Homo sapiens: one gene and its partners. The protein of the gene in region 1 purifies or fractionates together with the protein of each later gene. This does not show direct contact. Each region holds a gene or a part of one and is shown in the gene's direction. Other genes may lie near its edges.

What was found.
Region 2: the proteins of LMAN2L (region 1) and ABCA2 purify together in Homo sapiens (affinity purification with mass spectrometry; 2 studies listed by BioGRID and IntAct, with this or other methods). This does not show direct contact.
Region 3: the proteins of LMAN2L (region 1) and CNTNAP1 purify together in Homo sapiens (co-immunoprecipitation; 3 studies listed by BioGRID and IntAct, with this or other methods). This does not show direct contact.
Region 4: the proteins of LMAN2L (region 1) and KIAA0319L purify together in Homo sapiens (affinity purification with mass spectrometry; 2 studies listed by BioGRID and IntAct, with this or other methods). This does not show direct contact.
Region 5: the proteins of LMAN2L (region 1) and TMEM245 purify together in Homo sapiens (co-immunoprecipitation; 3 studies listed by BioGRID and IntAct, with this or other methods). This does not show direct contact.
Region 6: the proteins of LMAN2L (region 1) and MFAP3 purify together in Homo sapiens (affinity purification with mass spectrometry; 2 studies listed by BioGRID and IntAct, with this or other methods). This does not show direct contact.
Region 7: the proteins of LMAN2L (region 1) and COLEC12 purify together in Homo sapiens (affinity purification with mass spectrometry; 2 studies listed by BioGRID and IntAct, with this or other methods). This does not show direct contact.

What each region holds. Positions count from the first base shown.
Region 1 is NC_000002.12:96,705,429-96,709,064, reverse strand, and holds the end of LMAN2L (VIP36-like protein isoform 2 precursor), read left to right. Parts: intron 1-1,231; coding exon 1,232-1,351; intron 1,352-1,666; coding exon 1,667-1,809; 3' UTR 1,810-3,136; downstream 3,137-3,636. UniProt on the Homo sapiens protein: May be involved in the regulation of export from the endoplasmic reticulum of a subset of glycoproteins. May function as a regulator of ERGIC-53.
Region 2 is NC_000009.12:137,014,738-137,018,237, reverse strand, and holds part of ABCA2 (ATP-binding cassette sub-family A member 2), read left to right. Parts: coding exon 1-60; intron 61-162; coding exon 163-265; intron 266-336; coding exon 337-451; intron 452-545; coding exon 546-736; intron 737-891; coding exon 892-1,042; intron 1,043-1,113; coding exon 1,114-1,318; intron 1,319-1,499; coding exon 1,500-1,664; intron 1,665-1,766; coding exon 1,767-1,947; intron 1,948-2,063; coding exon 2,064-2,276; intron 2,277-2,366; coding exon 2,367-2,563; intron 2,564-2,641; coding exon 2,642-2,824; intron 2,825-3,140; coding exon 3,141-3,325; intron 3,326-3,427; coding exon 3,428-3,500. UniProt on the Homo sapiens protein: Probable lipid transporter that modulates cholesterol sequestration in the late endosome/lysosome by regulating the intracellular sphingolipid metabolism, in turn participates in cholesterol homeostasis.
Region 3 is NC_000017.11:42,696,031-42,699,530, forward strand, and holds part of CNTNAP1 (contactin-associated protein 1 precursor), read left to right. Parts: coding exon 1-122; intron 123-1,243; coding exon 1,244-1,337; intron 1,338-1,523; coding exon 1,524-1,769; intron 1,770-1,872; coding exon 1,873-1,920; intron 1,921-2,587; coding exon 2,588-2,880; 3' UTR 2,881-3,500. UniProt on the Homo sapiens protein: Required, with CNTNAP2, for radial and longitudinal organization of myelinated axons. Plays a role in the formation of functional distinct domains critical for saltatory conduction of nerve impulses in myelinated nerve fibers.
Region 4 is NC_000001.11:35,435,404-35,438,903, reverse strand, and holds part of KIAA0319L (dyslexia-associated protein KIAA0319-like protein), read left to right. Parts: intron 1-3,306; coding exon of another isoform or gene 3,307-3,422; exon of another isoform or gene 3,423-3,500.
Region 5 is NC_000009.12:109,032,948-109,036,447, reverse strand, and holds part of TMEM245 (transmembrane protein 245), read left to right. Parts: intron 1-67; coding exon 68-242; intron 243-2,946; coding exon 2,947-3,141; intron 3,142-3,500.
Region 6 is NC_000005.10:154,041,967-154,045,466, forward strand, and holds part of MFAP3 (microfibril-associated glycoprotein 3 isoform 1 precursor), read left to right. Parts: intron 1-3,500. UniProt on the Homo sapiens protein: Component of the elastin-associated microfibrils.
Region 7 is NC_000018.10:343,702-347,201, reverse strand, and holds part of COLEC12 (collectin-12), read left to right. Parts: coding exon 1-907; intron 908-3,500. UniProt on the Homo sapiens protein: Scavenger receptor that displays several functions associated with host defense. Promotes binding and phagocytosis of Gram-positive, Gram-negative bacteria and yeast.

The sequences.
Region 1 (3,636 bases):
TGCATGCCTGTAATCCCAGCTACTTGGGAGGCTGAGGCAGGGGAATTGCTTGAACCTGGGAGGCAGAGGTTGCAGTGAGCCGAGATCGTGCCATTGCACTCCAGCCTGGGCAACAAGAGCAAAACTCTGTCTCAAAAAAAAAAAAAAAAAAAAAAAGTCTAACTTCAGTGCATTGCAACACATCAGATATGGTTAAATGTAGGAGTTTATAATGATACTTTAAAGAGAGAAATCTAGTCCCTAATTGCTTGATCTTCTCTCTGGTAATTATTAGGGAGATTAAGAGTCACAAGTACAAGAAGCCACAGAGAAACAGGCATAGTCTAGAAGGGCAGTGTATCCCATGCCCATAGCTGTGCCCTGCCCATGGCCCATTAAACAGCGGCCATGAGACCTTTTCCTGTTGTACGTGTGTGTGTGTGCACGTGTGTGGTCTTCACCAGCGGGGAAGCTGCAGTCCTACTTTGTCTGTTCTTACTGTGCTGGAAGGTTTAACATATGGGATTTAATTGTGGTTTTATCTCCAAATTTTTTAATTATACAGATGCGTCTTGACATACAATGGCGTTATGTCCCAATAAACTCATTGTAGGTTGTAGATATTGTAAGTTGAAAATGCATTCAATACACCTACCCTACTGAACATCATAGCTTAGCCTAGTCTACCTTAAATGTGCTTAGAACATTTACATTAGCCTACAGTTGGGCAAAATCATCTAACACAAAGCCTATTCTGTAACAAAGTGTTGAATGTCTGATGTAACGTATGGAATACAGTACACGATGCAGTACTGGTTGTTTACCCTTGTGATTGTGTGGCTCACTGGGAGCTACAGCTCACTGCTGCTGCCCAGCCTCAGTACAGAGTGTTGTACTACACATCGCTAGCCTGGGAAAAGATCAAAACTCAAATTTTGAAGTATGGTTTCTGCTAAGCGCAGATTACTTTCACACCATCATAAAGTTGGAAAATTGTAAGTCGAACCATTTTAAGTCAGCGATCTTCTATACAGGTAATGCATGCTTGTTGATAAAAACTTAAATACAGAAGATATAGAATATGCCTTGTTCCCCATCCTTATTTTTAGTTGCAAAATGGAGAGGTTTCAATTATTTTTTCAAGGTCACTGCTGGTTAGCTGTGGATCAGAGGCTTGAACTAAGATACTGACTTCAAGAAACATACCTCTTTTTCAAGTGGCACAAGTCATCCTTCTTCCATTTTTCTTCAGATAATCATGATGTCATTTCCTTGAAGTTGTTTGAACTGACAGTGGAGAGAACCCCAGAAGAGGAAAAGCTCCATCGAGATGTGTTCTTGCCCTCAGTGGACAATATGAAGCTGCCTGAGAGTGAGCACAGGGGCCCGCGGGAAATGGTCCCATAGTTGGGGAGGAGCTTGCAGTGCTGTACCCATAGCTCACAGGGCGGTCTCTGCTCTGTGTTCTTCTTCTGAAGGGTAGGGAGCACTTTCATCTGCCTTTCCCCTTCAAGTTACAGATGAGCAGCAGGAGGGCCGCTTTGTTTCTCAGTTGGAAAGAGGGGGTCTAAGCTCTGGCTTCCCAGAAGTAGGTGTCAGAAACTGGGGGCCGGACAGCCTATAGTTTGATCCTTCCCTATTGGGTGGGCTCCCTGTTTTCTGACTTGCTTCTCTCTTGCTTCCTCAGTGACAGCTCCACTGCCGCCCCTGAGTGGCCTGGCCCTCTTCCTCATCGTCTTTTTCTCCCTGGTGTTTTCTGTATTTGCCATAGTCATTGGTATCATACTCTACAACAAATGGCAGGAACAGAGCCGAAAGCGCTTCTACTGAGCCCTCCTGCTGCCACCACTTTTGTGACTGTCACCCATGAGGTATGGAAGGAGCAGGCACTGGCCTGAGCATGCAGCCTGGAGAGTGTTCTTGTCTCTAGCAGCTGGTTGGGGACTATATTCTGTCACTGGAGTTTTGAATGCAGGGACCCCGCATTCCCATGGTTGTGCATGGGGACATCTAACTCTGGTCTGGGAAGCCACCCACCCCAGGGCAATGCTGCTGTGATGTGCCTTTCCCTGCAGTCCTTCCATGTGGGAGCAGAGGTGTGAAGAGAATTTACGTGGTTGTGATGCCAAAATCACAGAACAGAATTTCATAGCCCAGGCTGCCGTGTTGTTTGACTCAGAAGGCCCTTCTACTTCAGTTTTGAATCCACAAAGAATTAAAAACTGGTAACACCACAGGCTTTCTGACCATCCATTCGTTGGGTTTTGCATTTGACCCAACCCTCTGCCTACCTGAGGAGCTTTCTTTGGAAACCAGGATGGAAACTTCTTCCCTGCCTTACCTTCCTTTCACTCCATTCATTGTCCTCTCTGTGTGCAACCTGAGCTGGGAAAGGCATTTGGATGCCTCTCTGTTGGGGCCTGGGGCTGCAGAACACACCTGCGTTTCACTGGCCTTCATTAGGTGGCCCTAGGGAGATGGCTTTCTGCTTTGGATCACTGTTCCCTAGCATGGGTCTTGGGTCTATTGGCATGTCCATGGCCTTCCCAATCAAGTCTCTTCAGGCCCTCAGTGAAGTTTGGCTAAAGGTTGGTGTAAAAATCAAGAGAAGCCTGGAAGACATCATGGATGCCATGGATTAGCTGTGCAACTGACCAGCTCCAGGTTTGATCAAACCAAAAGCAACATTTGTCATGTGGTCTGACCATGTGGAGATGTTTCTGGACTTGCTAGAGCCTGCTTAGCTGCATGTTTTGTAGTTACGATTTTTGGAATCCCACTTTGAGTGCTGAAAGTGTAAGGAAGCTTTCTTCTTACACCTTGGGCTTGGATATTGCCCAGAGAAGAAATTTGGCTTTTTTTTTCTTAATGGACAAGAGACAGTTGCTGTTCTCATGTTCCAAGTCTGAGAGCAACAGACCCTCATCATCTGTGCCTGGAAGAGTTCACTGTCATTGAGCAGCACAGCCTGAGTGCTGGCCTCTGTCAACCCTTATTCCACTGCCTTATTTGACAAGGGGTTACATGCTGCTCACCTTACTGCCCTGGGATTAAATCAGTTACAGGCCAGAGTCTCCTTGGAGGGCCTGGAACTCTGAGTCCTCCTATGAACCTCTGTAGCCTAAATGAAATTCTTAAAATCACCGATGGAACCAAACATGAGCTTCTGACTGTGTTCTTTCTTCTAGGAGTGGGTTTGGGGAAAGTTCAGGCCTTTATTCTGAGCAGGCCTTTTTTTTGAGCTTCAAGCCCATCAACCGTTGTTTTGCCTTCTCCTGGGTTGGAAAAGCCCTCAGCTCAGCTCAGAAGGAAAGGGGGTCACCTTGGCTAGGCAGAGGTCTCTGTCTCTTCAGGCTTTCTTTCCTTCCCATGCACTTAAACAGCACAGGCTATAGTGCTCTCCTGCAGGTGGGATTCAGGTGGAGGCATCTTCCTCCCACCTCCCCTCCACAATAGTAGAATGGCTCCAGGGTGCCAGAGGACAAACTGACCTAGAGCTTGGCCTTGGAGCAGGGAGAACTGAAAAAGAAAATGGTGGTTTTGTCTTTTTTGAGTTGAAGGGGAGATTGTATGGACCCGTGGGAGGACCTAGGTGGGCTCTTGAGATGGCCAAGGCAGCAGTGCAGGTGGAAGGGGTCTCATCAGAGGGGAGGGGCA
Region 2 (3,500 bases), on another chromosome or scaffold:
GGCCTGGGCCCAATACTGGCGGCCGCTTCTACTTCCTCTACGGCTTCGTCTGGATCCAGGGTGAGGAGCAGGCCCGGAAGACCGGCTGGAGGATTCATGGGGGAGGACAGGTGTGAGGACGAGAGGGCCTGCCCGGCACCTGATGGCTGCCCCCACCCACAGACATGATGGAGCGCGCCATCATCGACACTTTTGTGGGGCACGATGTGGTGGAGCCAGGCAGCTACGTGCAGATGTTCCCCTACCCCTGCTACACACGCGATGAGTGAGTGCTGGGCGCCCGGGGCTGGGGCTGGGGCTGGGGCTGAGTGGCGCCTGAGCGCGGCCTCCCCGCAGCTTCCTGTTTGTCATTGAGCACATGATGCCGCTGTGCATGGTGATCTCCTGGGTCTACTCCGTGGCCATGACCATCCAGCACATCGTGGCGGAGAAGGAGCACCGGCTCAAGGAGGTGCGCGGGCCGGGACTCTCCCTGGAGGCGCGGGCTGGCAGGGAGGGGCGGCGTCCTCCCCGGGGCCTGCCCCAAGCCCCTGGCCCACCCGCAGGTGATGAAGACCATGGGCCTGAACAACGCGGTGCACTGGGTGGCCTGGTTCATCACCGGCTTTGTGCAGCTGTCCATCTCCGTGACAGCACTCACCGCCATCCTGAAGTACGGCCAGGTGCTTATGCACAGCCACGTGGTCATCATCTGGCTCTTCCTGGCAGTCTACGCGGTGGCCACCATCATGTTCTGGTGAGCGCGGGCCATGGTAGGAGGGACCTGGGGCAGGCACTTGCCCAGCAAGCTCACCCCACATCCTCTCAGAGCCCCCTGGACCCTGGCACGGGCCTGCCCAGGAGGCCGGGCGTGCGGGTGGATGACGGTGCGCGTGGCCCCTGCCCACCCAGCTTCCTGGTGTCTGTGCTGTACTCCAAGGCCAAGCTGGCCTCGGCCTGCGGTGGCATCATCTACTTCCTGAGCTACGTGCCCTACATGTACGTGGCGATCCGAGAGGAGGTGGCGCATGATAAGATCACGGCCTTCGAGAAGTGCATCGCGGTGAGGGTCGCGGGCAGGCGGGCGGCTGGGGTGCCGGGCCACCCCACGTGCTGACACCACTGCCTTCTCAGTCCCTCATGTCCACGACGGCCTTTGGTCTGGGCTCTAAGTACTTCGCGCTGTATGAGGTGGCCGGCGTGGGCATCCAGTGGCACACCTTCAGCCAGTCCCCGGTGGAGGGGGACGACTTCAACTTGCTCCTGGCTGTCACCATGCTGATGGTGGACGCCGTGGTCTATGGCATCCTCACGTGGTACATTGAGGCTGTGCACCCAGGTACTGGCCAGCCCTTGGAGGGCAGGGGAGAGGCAGGGGTCCCCAGCCAGGGTTGGGGACCAGCAGTCTGTGTCCACTCCTGGATGCAGCACGGGTGGCTCCCTGGGTGGGCACGTGGCCCACGTGGTGGATGGTCACCCCAGGCCCTAGGTCAGCCTCCCCTCCCCTCCCCGACCCCCAGGCATGTACGGGCTGCCCCGGCCCTGGTACTTCCCACTGCAGAAGTCCTACTGGCTGGGCAGTGGGCGGACAGAAGCCTGGGAGTGGAGCTGGCCGTGGGCACGCACCCCCCGCCTCAGTGTCATGGAGGAGGACCAGGCCTGTGCCATGGAGAGCCGGCGCTTTGGTGAGGCTGGCATCAGAATGGTGGCTGGGGTGGGCGCTGGGTTCAGAGTCCTGGGTGGCCTTGGCGCCGCCCCCACCCTGCTGATCCACAGCCCTGGTGCAGAGGAGACCCGTGGCATGGAGGAGGAGCCCACCCACCTGCCTCTGGTTGTCTGCGTGGACAAACTCACCAAGGTCTACAAGGACGACAAGAAGCTGGCCCTGAACAAGCTGAGCCTGAACCTCTACGAGAACCAGGTGGTCTCCTTCTTGGGCCACAACGGGGCGGGCAAGACCACCACCATGTGAGTGTCGGAGGGGCAGGGCGGTGGGCATCTGCTGACCAGAGCAGGAGTCCTAGTCAGGGCAGGGTGGGGCCCCTGCAGAGGGCGTGGGGTCATGACCCCGCCCACCTACCCAGGTCCATCCTGACCGGCCTGTTCCCTCCAACGTCGGGTTCCGCCACCATCTACGGGCACGACATCCGCACGGAGATGGATGAGATCCGCAAGAACCTGGGCATGTGCCCGCAGCACAATGTGCTCTTTGACCGGCTCACGGTGGAGGAACACCTCTGGTTCTACTCACGGCTCAAGAGCATGGCTCAGGAGGAGATCCGCAGAGAGATGGACAAGTGGGTGGGCTGGGCGGGGGGCGGGGCAGGTGGGCGGAGGCCCTGGGGCTCTGCATAGCAGCAGCCCCATGCCCCACCTCCCTGTCCCAGGATGATCGAGGACCTGGAGCTCTCCAACAAACGGCACTCACTGGTGCAGACATTGTCGGGTGGCATGAAGCGCAAGCTGTCCGTGGCCATCGCCTTCGTGGGCGGCTCTCGCGCCATCATCCTGGACGAGCCCACGGCGGGCGTGGACCCCTACGCGCGCCGCGCCATCTGGGACCTCATCCTGAAGTACAAGCCAGGTGAGTGGGGTGCCGTGTGGGCAGGGGTGCGGGCGGCGCCTCCCCTGCCCCCTGACCCTGGGTCTGGCCTTGTCCTAGGCCGCACCATCCTTCTGTCCACCCACCACATGGATGAGGCTGACCTGCTTGGGGACCGCATTGCCATCATCTCCCATGGGAAGCTCAAGTGCTGCGGCTCCCCGCTCTTCCTCAAGGGCACCTATGGCGACGGGTACCGCCTCACGCTGGTCAAGCGGCCCGCCGAGCCGGGGGGCCCCCAAGGTCTGTGTTGAAGCTGCCTGAGCTGGCTTCGGGCCACCTTCTCCCCGGGACCCCCACCTGAGAATCCACAATGGAGAGGCTGGGCCCTCACCGTCACCCGCTGGGCCCAGGATGCCTGCTGGGGCCTGGCCCGCCCTCTGCAACGCCCGTATCTTGGAGAGGCTGGGTCCTCAGCGTCACCCCCTGGGCCCAGGATACCTGCTGGGGCCTGGTTCTTCCTCTCCAATGCCCATATCTTGACCCAGTTGGGTTCCCATTGGGGGTCCCTCCTCCCAGCCCCTGAGTGAATTCCTTCCTGCTCCCACGTCCCCCACAGAGCCAGGGCTGGCATCCAGCCCCCCAGGTCGGGCCCCGCTGAGCAGCTGCTCCGAGCTCCAGGTGTCCCAGTTCATCCGCAAGCATGTGGCCTCCTGCCTGCTGGTCTCAGACACAAGCACGGAGCTCTCCTACATCCTGCCCAGCGAGGCCGCCAAGAAGGGGGCTTTCGAGCGCCTCTTCCAGGTGTGAGGGCGCACGGGTCGGGGGGCAGTTGCAGGTGGTGGAGGTGGGCGCACTCCTGCCTGGGCGTCCCTGCCGCAGCCTCCCCCTCCACCGCCCCTGCAGCACCTGGAGCGCAGCCTGGATGCACTGCACCTCAGCAGCTTCGGGCTGATGGACACGACCCTGGAGGAAGTGT
Region 3 (3,500 bases), on another chromosome or scaffold:
TTCAGCTGCGATATCAGCTGGGCACCAGTCCCTACGTGTACCAGCTAACCACTCGACCAGTGACCGATGGCCAGCCCCATAGCATCAATATCACCCGTGTTTACCGGAACCTCTTCATCCAGGTATGCATAGAGGGAGGTGAGCCAGTTCAGATCATAACCTCATGGTCTCCGTTGTGGCATCCAGGAAAACATCAAATACTTAATATTTGTAGATCACATTTGAATGTATAGAGGATTTTCACGTGTGTCACCTCATGTAACCCTCACAATAGCTCCAAGGGGACAATAGGCATTTTTTTTTTTTTTTTGAGATGGAATTTTGCTCTTGTTGCCCAGGCTGGAGTGCAATGGTGTGATCTCAGCTCACTGCAACCTCTGCCTCCCGGGTTCAAGCAATTCTTCTGCCTCAGCCTCCCGAGCAGCTGAGATTACAGGCATGCGCCACAACGCCCAGCTAATTTTGTATTTTTAGTAGAGACAGGAGTTCTCCATGTTGGTCAGGCTGGTCTCGAACACCCGACCTCAGATGATCCGCCTACCTCAGCCTCCCAAAGTGCTGGGATTATAAGCGTGAGCCACCGCGCCCAGCCAGACAATAGGCATTCTTATTTAAGTGTTTTACAAATCAGTAAAGAGCCTCAGAAAGTAAAGCGGTTTCAGCTACTCAGGAGGGTGAGGCAGGAAAATTGCTTGAACCTGGGAGGTGGAGGTTGCAGTGAGCTGAGATCGTGCCACTGCACTCCAGGCCTAGGCGACAGAGTGAGACTCCATCTCAAAAAAATAAAGTGGTTTACCCAAAGTCAAACCGCTGGTAAGCTGCAAAGATGGGGCTTAAAACCAGGGTTTTAAAAAATATATAGGCCAGGTGCAGCGGCTCACACCTGTAATCCCAACACTTTGGGAGGCTGAAGTGGGAGGACTGCTTGAGGCCAGGAGTTTGAGACCAACCTGAGCAACATAGCAAGACCTCATCTTCACAAAGAAAAATATTTAATAAATAAAATAAAATAATAATAATAAAAATATATATACCAAATCCTACATCTAGGCCCAGGGGTTGCCCACTTCAGATTGAGCTAGGACTCACCCAGCTGGCACCGCCAGTTTGGACAGAATGAGAGATCTCCAGTATCTGCCCCCAAGTATATTCCCAGGGTCCACACAGTTCCAGTCCAGCCCACAGGCATCTGCTTCTGGTCCCCGCTCCCTCATCGCCCTCCCCCTCCCCCTCCCCACCTCAGGTGGACTACTTCCCACTGACAGAGCAGAAGTTCTCGCTGTTGGTGGACAGCCAGTTGGACTCACCCAAGGCCTTGTATTTAGGGCGTGTGATGGGTAAGCTGCGGGTGCGGACGCGTTTTAGGCAAGGAGCTGTGGCATATGTTCCTGGATCCTCAAGGAAAGTGAAGGCCCTGGGAATGGCTGAGGGCAGTGGGAAGGATGAGTGGGAAACCTGTGGACAGTGAGAGTGGCAGGGCCTTTGGGTCCAAGTCCCTCTTTCTGGGCCTGCCTCTCTCTCAGAGACAGGAGTCATTGACCCGGAGATCCAGCGCTACAACACCCCAGGTTTCTCAGGCTGCCTGTCTGGTGTTCGATTCAACAACGTGGCTCCCCTCAAGACCCACTTCCGAACCCCTCGACCCATGACTGCTGAGCTAGCTGAGGCCCTTCGAGTTCAGGGAGAACTGTCCGAATCTAATTGCGGAGCTATGCCACGTCTTGTTTCAGAGGTGCCACCTGAGCTTGATCCCTGGTATCTGCCCCCAGGTACATTCCCAGGACACAGAGGACAGAAGGGAGGGATGACACGGAAGGGAATGATTCTTAACATGGAGGAGGCATCTCCTAACTGGTGCTTTCTCCTCTCCAGACTTCCCCTACTACCATGATGAAGGATGGGTTGCCATACTTTTAGGCTGTGAGTAGCACTGATCACTAAGCTGACCTCCCAAGACTACCCTCTGACTGTCAGCATCCTTTCCCTGCCCCTGATCCCCAAGGCTGCAGGATGGCAAAGGCACTAGATGCACAATGGCACAAAGGATGATGAGACAGGCTATGCTGAAGGTGCCATATAACTGGGCAGAGATTTTTAGATGTTTGAGGATGAGACAGGCTATGCTGAAGGTGACATATAACTGGGCAGAGATTTTTAGATGTTTGAGGATGCTACAGATTTTTAAATAAAATATTAAAATGAGACTATAGCTAAGGGATGGGAAAATGGGGATACAGTAACACCTAGAGAGATAAGAAATTGGGGTAACTACCAGGGATGTGGAAAGAGAATATTAGAAACAGAAGGTGGCAGGGGGTAAGCCAGGAATTCAAACCTGCCAGACACTTGAGATGAGTTTAGTGTGGTCGAACAGCTAACTGAGGGTCATACATTATGCTTTTGGCCAAAAGTAAATGTGTGTGTGTGTGTGTGTGTGTGTGTGTGTGTGTGCAGGTGAAATCCCAAAGTGTGTGTATGTATACAGGTGAAATCTCAAAGAGTGCGTGTGTGTGTGTGTGTGTGTGTGTGTGTGTGTGTATACAGGTGAGATCCCAAAGATCTGAATTGTCCCTTTTCTTCTTTTCAGTTTTGGTGGCCTTTCTGCTGCTGGGGCTGGTGGGAATGTTGGTGCTCTTCTATCTGCAAAATCATCGCTATAAGGGCTCCTACCATACCAATGAGCCCAAGGCTGCCCACGAGTACCATCCTGGCAGCAAACCTCCCCTACCCACTTCAGGCCCTGCCCAGGTCCCCACCCCTACAGCAGCTCCCAACCAAGCTCCAGCCTCAGCCCCAGCCCCAGCCCCAACTCCAGCCCCAGCCCCTGGCCCCCGGGATCAGAACCTACCCCAGATCCTGGAGGAGTCCAGGTCTGAATGAGTCAGAAGGGCTTCTGGGACCAATTCCAGCTCCTGACATTCCCCCAGTCCTGCCTCTCCCCCATCCTATCAGGGACATTTGGCTCCTCTTAGCTGGCTCTGCTCATCCAGAGGATATTCCCCCATCCCCCCCCCATCAAGTTTGGTGGGCAGAGCTACAGATGGGACCCAAGGGAGTGGCCGAGCCTCACTGCCTAAACCAATGCCCTTCTCATCCCTGTTTCCCCAGGCTCCTGGCTGTTTATCTGCCCCAAAGGAGAAGCCTCATGGGGTTGACATAGGTCCTTTCTGCCATCTCTGTTCCAGCTGCTGTCAGGGATTAACAACAGAGTGTAGGGGAGATTAACTGCCTCCCTTCCAATAGACACTATCAGCAGGGACAGATGTGTGGGAGTGCAGGGCTGCAGAGGGTATGGGGGGAGGAGGCTGCTAAACCCTATCCCCCAGCCTCCCCCCTGCCCTGAAGATCTTCCATTTGCTTCCACTCAGCTGGAGGCTCAAGAGGGCTTGATGGCTGTCCCCTGCCCCCCTCCTTTTGTTTTGTACACAGAGACCAAGAGGCCTCAGTTTAGCACCTTAGTACCTCCGCTGCTTCACTTGCTTTAGCCAAAGCCATAAAAA
Region 4 (3,500 bases), on another chromosome or scaffold:
AAGTAGCTGGGACCACAGGCATGCGCCACCATCCCCAGGTTTTTTTGTTGTTGTTGTTGTTGTTTTGTATTTTTGGTAGAGACGGGGTTTCATCATGTTGCCTAGGCTGTTCTTGAACTCCTGGGCTTAAGTGATCTGCCTGCCTTGGTCTCCTAAAGTGCTGGGATTATAGGTGTGAGCCATGGCACCCGGTCTTGGTTTATATTTTAAAAAGACAACTGTGTAGCTGGGCGTGGTGGTGGGTGCCTGTAATCCCAGCTACTCGAGAGGCCAAGGCAGGAGAATTGCTAGAACCTGGGGGTGTGAAGGTTTCAGTGAACTGAGATCACTCCAACCTGGGCAATAAAGCCAGACTCTGTCTCAAAAAAAAAAAAAAAAAAAAAAAAAAGATAACTGTGGCTGACAGATGCAGGGGTTGGAGGGGAAAGGCTAGCTGAAAGGAAGTTAGATAGAATGTCCTTGGGGTTGAGAGGCAGATAGATTCTAGATACATTTTTGAGGAAGACTTGATGAGGTTAGTGGTCTGCTGGCCAAGGCGTGTGGGAGAAGGGAGAAAGGAAGGATGGCTCCCAGCTTCAGCACTGAGCCTCTGTGGGTTGGGTGGTGGTAGTATCCCTGAGATGGGAGAGACTGGAGAAGAAATGGTGGAGATCAAGTGTTTGGTGCAAGACAGTTATGAATGGAGTTGAGGGAATGAGAATGAAAGATTGACAAGGCCCAAATTGTGAAAGTTTGACTATCAGCCTGCAGAGTTAAACATTTATCCTGGTGATGCTGGGAAGCAAAGTCTTGGATAAGCTGGTTTAGGAAAATCAGTCTGGTGACAACATATAATAATTGAAGGGGAGTGGCTACAAGTGTGGAGACCAGCAAGGAGATTTTTGGTCCAAGGAGGAGCTGACAGTGATTCACACAGCGTGGTGTCAGTGGGTTATAGCTAGGTCTGGCAAGGTCAGGGCTGACTTCCAACCGAGAGATGGAGAATGATAGTGCTGTTGACAGAATCAGAACCTCTGATGCAGTGACTGGGTAAGAGAAGATGAATTAAATGGAACTCAGCAGAAGAGTCAGACATGGAACTGTAGAAATAGGAATCTCCCATCTGCTGGTGAGGATCAGCACCACAAAGGGTCACATCCCTTATGGGGGAATGTTGAAGGACAAAAGAAGAGGCCTAGGGTTGAGGACCCCAAGAATGACCATCCAGGAGGGAGGAGGGGATTCATTAGGGGACAGCCGTCGGTGTTTGCTGCTGCAAAGGCCAAAGAATCAGAATTGATAGCACCAGAGAAGCTCCTGGCCCATCAGAGAGCTGCAGTAGAGTGGGGAGTGACAGTGGAAGTGAAAGCGCAGGTGATTTAGAAAGCGCAGTGAGGAGATGAAGGCCCTGAATATTTAAAAATCCTTTTAGAAGCTGAGCAGTGAAAGCTAGAGAAGCAGGATGGCAGGCAGAGGGCAAGGGCCTCCTCTTCCTCAGAGAAGGGCTCATGAACAGATCTGTGGGTGGCAATGTCGAATGCAGGTAGAGGAGTGGTGCGTTGGAGAGGTGCTTCCTGACTGAGGAGGAAGGAGGGAGAAGGGAAGAGAGGAGAGAAAGGGAGCATGGAGTTCAGATGCCTCTTCTGAGGCAGGAGGGGAGAAACGGGCGGTGATGGCCCGGAGAAGTGCCGCGCTGCAGAGGTGAGATTGGATGGGAGCCTGAGCTCAGCACATCGGACATCTTAGGGAGAGGGGAGAGCCATGGGGTGTTCCAGTGGCATCTAGGTGACCAAAACCAACAACGTGCGACCAGGTGAGGGCAGCAGGGCTGGTCTCTTGTGGGCAGTGTCTACCGAAGGGAGCTGGGAGAGCCCGCTCAGGTTCGGTGTGGGTCTGAGCAGGCCGGAAGCACTGGTTCTTGTTCTGGGCTCAGTGGGTTAGCAGGTCCAGCCTAGAGTAGAGTCACTAGGAGGACGAGGAGAATGAGATTCAAGACCATATGGTGTCAGGTATGGAACTGAAGAAGTTTAGCTGGAAGAAGGGTAAACTGAGTGGGTCCGTTGGGGGGAAAGAGGATGTGTGTGCGCGGGAGTCTGGACGGACAGTTTGCCAGGAGCCAGTTTAGGCTGAGGATGAACAGTAACTGAGGAAGGAGAGCAGTGCCACCTGGTAAGTGTAGGGCTGCCCCCCTCAGGAGGCCCCCTTTACATTCAGCAGCTATGGCTTTGTTTTCTCTTGTTGCTGTTGTTTTTTGTTGTTGTTTTTGTTTTCTATTGATTTTTTTTCTAAAACTTTCTATTGAAGTATATTAGGTTGAACCTAGGCTCCTGTCCTCACTGCTATAGCCAGAGGGGCTTTGGGAAGGAGGCAGCTGTGAACAGGTGGGTATTTCAAGGGGTGAGGCAGGGCCTTTGGAGGACCTGGGCCCTTGCCAGGGCCCTTTCCACTGTCCCCACCACACTGGAGATGTCCTGGCGGTCAGTGTTCTTCTGTGGCCCTGCTGCTCCGCTGCCCGAAGACTCAGTAGGAGAGGTTCAGTCAAGACCCAGAACTGTAACCCTGACACCAACGCGGGTGAGGAAGCTCCCTGCCCAAGCCCCAGAGCATGTGGCACAGGCACAGCTGTACATGGACAAGGTCCTTGGGCGCATGTGGTCCTGAATGGCAGGCGCATCAGGGTCTGGATGCGCTCAGCCTGGAGAGCTCGGGGCACTGCCACCCTTAAGTCAGGTGTGGCCAGGAAGGGCTGAATGGCTGGGAATCCTCTCAAGGCACTTTCAGTATGTGAGGGAGATCTGGATCCTTCTCCCCGGAGAAGGGAGAATGATTATTGGATGATGAGATTGTGGTGCTGGAGAGGGCTCTCCCCTCTCCCTAAGATGTCCACCCCTCACCTGACTGGTTACCTTTTTTAGAAAGGAGGGAGGTTAGCTCCTGGGCGTGGGCATTCCCAGGACCCAGAACACTGCTGAGGGGGTGCCACCTGTTGGCAGCTCCCACTCTAGTCCTGCTATCTCAGCCTGCTGTTTGTTTTCTCTGGAGTTTTTGCACCAGCCAGAGGGCAGCCATCTTTGCTGTTGGAACTCTTCTTATCAGACCACATTTCATGTCTGTGGCCGCTCGGCATCTATAGGGATAAGTAGTGAAGGGACTGCCATGGCTTGCAGAATCGCAGGTGTCTTCTTCGACCCCAGGTGCTTCATACGGTTCTTGCTTTGTGTGTTCTGTGATTTGGCTGCTTGGGACTGCTTCTGAGAGTCCCCATTTCAGTCAGGCTCTCCCAGCAGGAGAGACCTGTCCAAGTGTGCACCTACTCTGCCACCCTAGCATCCAGTGAAGCCACAGCAGACAAGAGCCCACAGAGCAAATGTCTACATGGACTGAAACTGCACACTCCTGCTGTGCCAGCACTCAGCGGCCTTGCTGACCTAGGGTGCAGCTAAAAGCTCATTCTCCAGAGCCTGAGTTCTTTGTGCTTTCCTGCCTACCATGTCATTCCACCCATAGAGGGAGGTGATAAA
Region 5 (3,500 bases), on another chromosome or scaffold:
AGATTCTTTTGCTTTGTTAGTGTTTTGCTGATGATGTTAAGTTGTTTTTCTTTTACTCTTTTTTCAGCATTAGCAGCAATCCTTGGAGCAGTGCCATTCCTGGGGACATACTGGGCAGCAGTACCTGCAGTTCTTGACCTGTGGCTGACACAAGGGTTAGGATGCAAGGCCATTTTACTGTTGATTTTTCATCTCTTGCCAACATACTTTGTAGATACTGCAATCTACTCTGACATATCAGGGTAAGTAAGCCACAGAATTTCTTATTAGTGAATCATCCAGGCATTTCCGTTTTTTTTTTTTTAAAGGAGGATTTTTTTCTCCTGGGGGTATACAAAAGAACTGGTAGTAGGAATTTTCAGTGAAATAGCCTTTTGTGTTCCCACAAATGAAATTTTCATTGAAAATAGTATTGTTTACAAGGCATGATATTTTGGGGTTTTTTTTTTTTTTTTTGGTTGTTGTTGCCCCAGAGTTCCAGAGCAACTTTTTTTTTTTTTTTTTTTTGAGACAATATCTCTTTCACTCAGACTGCTAGAGTGCAGGGTGCAGTCATGGCTCATGGCAGCCTTGAACCTTGAACTCCTAGGCTCAAGCAGTCCTCCTGCCTTGAACTTCCCAAGGCACTAGGATTACGGGAATGAACCACCATGCCCAGCCAATATTTTCTTATTACATATGTAATATTTATAATATATATGATGTCCTGGGTTAAAACCAAATTGTGAATAATTTTCTCTTGATTTAGTGACATTTAACCTAGAAAAGAATTATGACCAGATGTACATCAAATATTTTAAGTACAGTGAACAGTTAATGATTATTTTTATCTCTTCTTTGGTTTTGGAGAAAATGTTGTTAGATTGTATGTCTGAGGATATCCATGTGAAACCAAATCTCAGCAAGTTAATTTCTGGCAAGCAGAGCTCTCTAAAGATATAATTGGAATGGTTCTATGATAAATACAGGTTAAATCTAAGTCAGAATCAACACTTTAGCCATATAATACAATAAATAAATGTCTGTTTTTATAGGTTTTGACATCTCTTTTAGAAATTGCATTAAGTATATCAAGCCAGTTCTCAGTCACATTAAAACTTGAGAGAGAAAATTAAAAAGCTGAACATCATAGTGTGGTTAACTAGTGTGTCACAGTTGACATTTGAGCAGGAATAAGTATGATTAATACTTAAGTGCTTTTATTTCTTTAAACTTTGCTGTAAATTTTATATTAAGGTTTACAGCTGGAATTAAAGAAACACTGTCTTTTTTTTTTTTTTTTTTTTTTTTTGAGACAGAGTCTCCCTCTATCACCCAGGCTGGAGTGCAGTGGTGCAATCTCGCCTCACTGCAACCTTCGCCTCCCAGGTTCAAGCCATTCTCCTGCCTCAGCCTCCTGAGTAGCTGGGATTACAGGCGTGCACCACCACACCCGGCTAATTTTTGTATTTTTACTAGAGATGGGATTTCACCATGTTGATCAGGCTGATCTTGAACTCCTGACCTCAAGTGATCCGCCTGCCTTGGCCTCCCAAACTGCTGGGATTACAGGCATGAGCCACGATGCCCGGCCTAAAATACTGTCTTTAAACGTTGTTATTGGGAAATGAAAGGTTTGGCATAAATTGTTTTATTTTTTAATAGGTTAAGCTTTTATTCATAAACTCCCACACGTTTTTATTTTTTTTAAAAAAAGCTTTAAGGCTGAGCATAGTGGCTCAAGCCTGTAATCCTACCACTTTGAGAGGCCGAGGTGGGTGGATCACTTGAGCCCAGGAGCTCAAGACCAGCCGGGGAAACATGGTGAAACCCGTTCTCCACAAAAATATAAAGATTAGTTTGGTGTGGTGGCACATGCCTGTAGTCCCAGCTACTCAGGAGGCTGAGGTAGGAAGATCACTTGAGTCTGGGAGGTCAAGACTGCAGTAAGCTGTGATTGCGGCACTGCATTCCAGCCTGGGTGATGGAGCGGAATAAAAAGCTTTAAGCATTTTTGATAGTTTTCCTTGAATGTGTTGTTTAGGGAAGAAGTTTACTTAGCAAACATGGAATACTGCCCTAAATCATTTTTTTGGAATGAGAAAGACAAACACATTATGAATATAATTTATTGGTTTCCTGAAGACTGGTTCTCCACAAGTCTTACTTTGATTTAGCTGTAATATAGAACATCCTTCCAGGATATTTAGTTATTTGCCCCTCACTGAATTGTTCTTCTCATCTATGTTTAAAACTAGAAACAAACAGAATGTGACTTATTTCCCAGTCCTTCTGATGTCAGTGGTCCTTTCTTGTCATTATCAATGTGCTATGCTACTGTGTTCTGTTTTATTTCATTCCGCTTACATAAGTGATACTGTAATAAGCTGGAGGGCATTTGTGATTCTCCTGTGAAATAGAAATCTTGGGCTTTGTGACAGATATTTTCCTCAGGAGGCCTTTTATCATCACCTATGTTAAAAACTATATTTTAGGAGGTTGCCAAAAGTCTGACCTATGAGTAACAGGGATGCTCTCATTGTTGCTGTCGTCATATAAAAGCATAATTAACTGAATTACATGCTAAATTGTGCTCACTTAATTATCCTTGATGGAGGTTAACTTAACAGGTGACTCCTAACCAGTCCCAAGCCAACATTAACCCATCATAGGCAGGCACCTGTAATGGGTATAAAATATCTGTTAACATTGCTGGCTTTATTCTTTCATTCCTGGAGCTATAAAAAGAGGCAGATGTCATCCATAGGAAAAACAATTGTTGCATCTCAATATTGTTGCATCTCAATATTATTGCAGTCAGTGTTCAGTTGTATGCATCGAGGTGATCTAAAGAAAGCTGATAATATGCTAAAAAGCATAGTGTATTAAAGAATGCACATTGTATTAGAAATGTATTTCAGATTTTTTCCAGTTTTTGTGTGTTAAAGGTCGTGCTCTTTATTCCAGAGGTGGCCATCCTTACCTGACAGGCTTGGCAGTGGCCGGTGGAGCATACTACCTAGGCCTGGAAGGAGCAATCATCGGTCCTATTCTTCTCTGCATACTTGTGGTTGCTTCCAATATCTATAGTGCCATGCTAGTGAGTCCCACGAATTCAGTTCCCACGCCAAACCAGACCCCATGGCCTGCTCAGCCTCAGCGGTGAGTTAAAGCAGAATAATCATAAGCTGTATTTATACATTGAACTGTCCTGTCTCTGTATTTGATAAGTAGCTTCATCCAGACTTGTCAGGATAAAGGTATTTGAGTACCAATGCTGTGATAAAGGTTGCAGAAGACACTAAGTAAATACAAATCGTTGGCAGAGTTTTGGGTTTCATATACCAAGAAAATTTAAAACCTATATTGGGGCCGGGAGCAGTGGCTCACGCCTATAATCCCAGCACTTTGGGAGAACAAGGCAGGTGGATCACCTGAGGTCAGGAGTTCGAGCCCAGCCTGGCCAACATGGCGAAACCCCATCTCTACTAAAAATACAAAAATCAGCCAGGTGTGGTGGC
Region 6 (3,500 bases), on another chromosome or scaffold:
GAAAACTAAGGCCTTGCAAGCCTATGGCTTCACCCAGGGGTAGGATCAGGCACCTTAACTCTAGAGCCCATTCTCCTAACCACTGAGCCATGATTGTCTTACAATTTTGATACTGCAAAACTGGAAGAATTGTCTGGCTATTATCTAAGCTGTTCATAAGCTGAACAAGTAGATCTGAGGGTAAGAGGAGTTCTGTTTTAACTAGACTGAGTTTCAAATAGAGATGTTTCAGACTATAGAGGGGGAAAAATGGCCTGGGAAGATCATAAATCTAAGCCTGTTTCATTGATGTTTTTGTCATTTGCATCCAGTAGCTATTCAGCAAATATACCTATGGCAAAAAGGATATAAGTTATGGGTATAACTGAAATAATCCTGGGTTTAAAGCAAAGCTCTGATAAATACAGACGATGTTTCTCCAGGTGCCAGAAGATATGTTGAAGTTTGAGCTCAGACTGACCAAATGCTAGTTATGGGGTATGTGATAGCTCCAAGGTAGTAATATAAAGGCTATTTTAATTAGAAACTTTTGAGTAAATGGCCCTCAGGATAGTGATTTCTGTTTGAATGTCACTAACCTTTTTTAGTTACAGATCCCTATAATAATGCTTGAGTCTAGGCAGAACAACTTTGTGTTTATTCTTTGCAAAGGGTAGGGTAGTGCTAACAACCTGCTCTTCATTTGCTTTTTCTCCCCTTTGCCGATTCAGAATGCTGCTTTGTCAATTTGTGTGCCTGCTGTAGGAACTGGTCCGTTTTCCAAGTGTGACAGTGCAGGCAGAGAAGGGTGGATGAGCTGTAAATGCAGCCTAGAACACATTTGATTATAGAGAATGAAGCACTAATATCCCAATATAATTGGAGTTTAAAAAAAAAAAATACCACCTGGGCATCAATGTGTTTCCCTGCTTTGCATTTTCCCAGAACTATTTCTGCAAACATCAGTTTCCTCAGCCAACTTAATATTGAGTCACCAGAACGGAAATCAGCCATATTACTTCCTTATTTGTGTTGAAAATTGGAACAGAATGGAAATATTTCTTCCCTCAGAAGTTGGCAGGAACGGCAACAAGACAATCTGTTAGGGGTGACAGCTATAGGCTCTTCTCTTTTTTAAAAATAATATAGTCAATATTCAACATGGTTTTCTGGGGTAAAATCATCCACATTTCTGATTCTTTATGATCCTAGCAAAGCTTACATTCTGTATACCTGAAAGATGAAAAAGGAGTTGGATTAAACTTGAGTCTTACACTTATCTATTACATTTTTATTTATTAATGCTGAAGAAAGGTAATATAGGCTGGGCGCGGTGGCTCACGCCTGTAATCCCAGCACTTTGGGAGGCCGAGGCAGCCAGATCACCTGAGGTTGGGAGTTCAAGATCAGCCTGTCCAACATGGAGAAACCCCGTCTCTACTAAAAATACAAAAAATTAGCCAGGCGTGGTGGTGCATGCCTGTAATCCCAGTTACTTGCGAGGCTGAGGTGGGAGAATCGCTTGAACCTGGGGGGTGGAGGTTGCAGTGAGCCGAGATCTCACCATTGCGCTCCAGCCTGGGCAACAAGAGCGAAACTCCGTCACACACACACACACACACAAAAAGGAAAGGTAATAAAAAATTTTATCAAGTAACTTCATCCACAAACATAGTATAGCCCTTTTTAACTGATAAGAAGAAGGTGACACTTTGGTTTTCCTTTTTGAAATCTGTTCTTGGGTTTCAAATGTCAGCTGCTACATTAAAAACAGCAGGCATAATATATATATATATATTTTTTTTTCCAAATACAAATGCACGTACTCTTGTGTCTCCCATGGCATCTAATATACCTGCCTTAATGACCTCAGCCCACTTAACTGATTTGGTGAACAATTCTGCATCTGAGGCTGTATATGTGAGGAAAAATTAAAGGATTGGAAATGAAAGTAAAATAACTATAGTATAAAGGATCATATGTTCAAAGCATGCAGGCCTAATATTATAGGAAGTCCCAAACATATAAGTGAATTGCATTCCTAGAACTGACACATTTGTCTTTTCTCTGTTGCATTCACAATATAATTACATTTCAGTCACATTGTCTTAGATACAGTTGGCTGTTTCTGGGCTGTCTTTCAAGCTGGTTTGTAAATTCCTGAGGGTCTAGGACAGTGTCCTAATTCTCCTTAGCAACTCTTGCACCACCTACTGTACTTCATCTTCCACGATGGATCCTTGACCTAGCTGAGCTGTAGTTTTAAAGTCATTAGTCTAGAATGAGCAGAATGGTCATAGTCAATGCAGTTTGTGCTGCAAGTAGCAGAAACCCATTCAAGCTGACTTAGCAAAAAGGAGACTTAGTGTGAGGAAATAATAGTACCCTGATACCAAGGATGATTTGTTCTTCCCTCACTATTTTTTTCTGCTTTGTCACCTTCTTGGACACGTATCTTTGCCAGTGTTTTCTCTCACAGCTGCTGAACAGCCTGTTACCTGCAAATGGGTTATATCCGTTAGTCTTTCAAATCAGAAGTCCTCTGTGTTCAGGATGTACATGGTATGAGTGAAGTGCCCAGTATTAACTGGATGTGTAAGGCTATTGTGCAGCCTCTTTCTCTTGTGGCTCAAAATCAGTGTGCCAGGTTTCTTCTGCCATGTTTGGCCTAAGAGCAGTTTAAGGGAGTTTATAGTGTTTTCCTAAATCCTGTCTGGTAGGTAGAGGCAAATGGCTATGTCTGTACAACACAAGAACCACAAATCTTGGCCACATGGGCAGTTTGCTTGCCACACTCCACTGTGTAAGGAAGAGACTAGAGATCTATGATGAAGATTGCCTGGCAGCCACAGACACAGTTCAATAACTTTTTGTGAACTTAATCTTTTTTCTCCTGCCTAACCATTTCCGCATTTATTACGTGTTTGCACATTCATCTTCACTTTTGTGGTTTTAATTTTGAGTAAAATTTAATAAAGTTGTTTCTTTTTTTAAAAAAAAAAAAGGGTCACAGGAGTGCCAGGAAGTAGAATTCTATCAGGCACCAAAGCACCATGTATGAGTCTCTCTTTGTCTTTCTCCTGCTCCTCTTCCTGTCTTCCCACTCTCTCCCTTCCCCATCCCTCTTGTCCTTTCTTACAGCTTCTCCTTGTATGTGGCCCAAACCTGACTGCCTCAGCCCCCACATGCCTCCTTTTCCTCAAATGACCCTGACCCACAAGGGTCTCAATTCCAAGTTCCAAGAACAAAGATTCTATTAGCTTACTTTGCCAATAGGTTGTCTTCCTCCTAGACCCAAGAAGATAGGGATAGGGCTCAAAGAGGGGAGCCGTTGGGTAAGTAGATCACGACAAATCTTCTCTACCACAAACTGAGGACACATACAATGTCATATCATGGTTGGGATCCAAGCTCAGTTTACAATGCCTATATGCTCCATAATATTGCAAAATATTTGCAATGAGAAAAAGAAAAATGTGAAATTTTAAATTTAAGATTAAAACTGCATAATGGTGTCCCCT
Region 7 (3,500 bases), on another chromosome or scaffold:
GCGAGCGGGGATGCTCTGGTGGACAGGCAGAGTCAATTGAAAGAAACTTTGGAGAATAACTCTTTCCTCATCACCACTGTAAACAAAACCCTCCAGGCGTATAATGGCTATGTCACGAATCTGCAGCAAGATACCAGCGTGCTCCAGGGCAATCTGCAGAACCAAATGTATTCTCATAATGTGGTCATCATGAACCTCAACAACCTGAACCTGACCCAGGTGCAGCAGAGGAACCTCATCACGAATCTGCAGCGGTCTGTGGATGACACAAGCCAGGCTATCCAGCGAATCAAGAACGACTTTCAAAATCTGCAGCAGGTTTTTCTTCAAGCCAAGAAGGACACGGATTGGCTGAAGGAGAAAGTGCAGAGCTTGCAGACGCTGGCTGCCAACAACTCTGCGTTGGCCAAAGCCAACAACGACACCCTGGAGGATATGAACAGCCAGCTCAACTCATTCACAGGTCAGATGGAGAACATCACCACTATCTCTCAAGCCAACGAGCAGAACCTGAAAGACCTGCAGGACTTACACAAAGATGCAGAGAATAGAACAGCCATCAAGTTCAACCAACTGGAGGAACGCTTCCAGCTCTTTGAGACGGATATTGTGAACATCATTAGCAATATCAGTTACACAGCCCACCACCTGCGGACGCTGACCAGCAATCTAAATGAAGTCAGGACCACTTGCACAGATACCCTTACCAAACACACAGATGATCTGACCTCCTTGAATAATACCCTGGCCAACATCCGTTTGGATTCTGTTTCTCTCAGGATGCAACAAGATTTGATGAGGTCGAGGTTAGACACTGAAGTAGCCAACTTATCAGTGATTATGGAAGAAATGAAGCTAGTAGACTCCAAGCATGGTCAGCTCATCAAGAATTTTACAATACTACAAGGTAAGTCAAAATTCTGAATTTGTATTTGTATTAGTTGTTTATTGCTGCATAACAAGTTACTCTAAAACTTGGCAATTTAAAACAATAAATATTCATCATCTCATAGTTTTTGTGGACCAGGAATTCAAGAGCAGCTTAGCTAGATGGTCCTGACTCACTGTTTTTCATGAGGTTGTGTCAAGATCTCAGCCAGAGCTGCAGTCATCTGAAGGCTTGACTGTGGCTGGAGGGTCTGCTACTTAAGTGGCCTGTTCACATAGCTCTTGGCAGGAGGCCTCAGTTCCTTGCTGTGTGAAATTGCTTGAGTGTCCTCACAATGTGGCAGCTGGCTGCTGCCAGAACAAGGAATTCAAGAGAGAGAACAAGAAGGAAGATACCATGACATACTAGCCTCAGAAGCCACACACCATCACATCCACTTCATTCTGTTTCTTAGAAATAAGTCACTAAGTCCAGCCCACACTCAATGCAAGTGGAATTAAGTTCCACATCTTGAAAAGAAGTGTAACTAAGAATCTGTGGACAGTACTTAAAGGGACTCCATTAATTATTTGTTGAGTGAAAGGTTGGTTAATTTGAATTTTCTTGGTCCTTGAGCTATTTCAATGCAATATAAATCAAGCTCCTCTGAAAGCAAGATCAAGTCTTTTGGGTCACAAAGCTACCATTAAGGGAGTTACATGTCATGAGTAGATGAATGGTTGGCCATCACAGTAACACAGAGGTCACAGTAAGGTCACAGAGGAAGGAAACGATGTGTCTTGCTTATAAAATCTGAGTTTTGGTAGGTGTGCTGGCTCATGCCTGTAATCTTAACACTTTCGGAGGCTGAGGTGGGAGGATCGCTTGAGACCAGGAGTTTGAGACCAGCCTGGGCAACATAGCAATATCCCATCTCCTAAATAAACAAATAAATGAATGAATACATACGTATAATCTGAATTTTACTGTTATCCAGATCATCCATATAAATTAAAAGTCCTTGACTCAGACTAAGTCCACAGTTGAAGAATTGTAGCATCATATATTAACAGTATTTTCCAGTCACAAACTATTTTCACAGGTTTTAAGTTGAAAGTACTGGTGGAAGATGCTGTGCTCAGCAGTCTGGGGTATACAAATGAAACCAACGGTCCTCACCCTTAGGGAGTTTAACATAAAGAGAATTTCAGGGCATCAGAAGATGGGCTGTAAGCAAACATTCAAGGGGAAGGGATTACACAAGGGCCTGAGTCACTAGGGGCCACCTTGGGGTATGTCCCCCACACTGGTCTAATAATCAAGGGTAAAGAGTGGTAGTTAATAAGCCCCTGTGAGGCTGAAGGCAGATCCGGATAGCAGATGGCAGGACTCTGTTCAATAGCTTTGTCAGTGACTAGCATGGATGACCTGCTAAAGCAATGCTTGTGTGACTTGAAACTGTATATGCCAGCCAGTGGCTGATAGACTCATAATCCACAATGATCTAGAGAGGCCAGGATAGTATCAAGATGTCAATCAAATGAAGTAGATAGGAATACATGTAAAATCCTGCTCATAAATGGATGAGACAAAACAGATAAATGTTGATGGGAAGGCATGGCTGGAAGGAAGTGTGCATGAAGCATGGGGATTTTAGTTGACTGGAAGCAGTGAAATATGTCTTCCAGGGAAGGGAATGTGTTCCTTGACTGTGGACTGTGTTAAGAAAAAGGGAAGTAACATCTGACTCTGTTCAGTATGCCAAGACCACCTCTGGAAGATAATGTTTACTTTGAGTAGCCCCTTTCAAAAGAGACATTCCCAGACCAGCATGCTCAGAAAAGCAACATCAGAATGATAGGGGCTAGAAACCACGTACTGTGAGGAAGGGTTGAGGACCTGGGAGCTTTCACCCCTAGGAGAGCCTGTTCAGTGGAGAACAAGACAGCCATCTGCACTTATTTAAAGTTGCTCTGTCTGAGGAATGCCACTGGGTGAAACAAGACTAGTGGGTGTTCACTAAGGGAAGATCAATTTTGGTTTTACAGAATGTTCCTCATAAAATGGGTATTAGCTGAAAATATAATGGCTCCCCTACTCAATCAGGATGCCCCAGCTCTGGAGGGGCTGGACAGTTGCAGGTCAGGGATATGGTAGGTGTGAGTCTTACTCTGAAAAAGGGGTAGCCCTTCAAATGATTTAAAAAAAAATTCTTAGACAATCTTATCATGGTATTCTGGATATTTTCTAGTTATTAATTTTATAGTTTTATTATTTCATTAATTTAATTGTTACCTTGTCTTCAGTTATTTAGTTTATAGACAGCGTGGCTTATCAGCCAAGTAAGGACATGAAAAGCTAGTATTTGAAGGTGAGACCCTGAGTGTTTAAGTTAATGTTTCTATTGTTAGGATTCTTTTATCAGCTAGTATTGAAAGTGAATGTACTGAGCACTTTTCACCAACGTCCCAATGAATCCTGACAGCAGCTCTATGAAGCAGCTACTTACAATGTCATCGCCAGTTTATAGACGAGGAAATTAAGGCTTAGAAGGTTTGAGTAACTTGCTGAGGTTTACACAAGTAAAAAGTAGCTCAGTGGAATCCGAGCCCAGGCCGTCTGGTGCCAAACC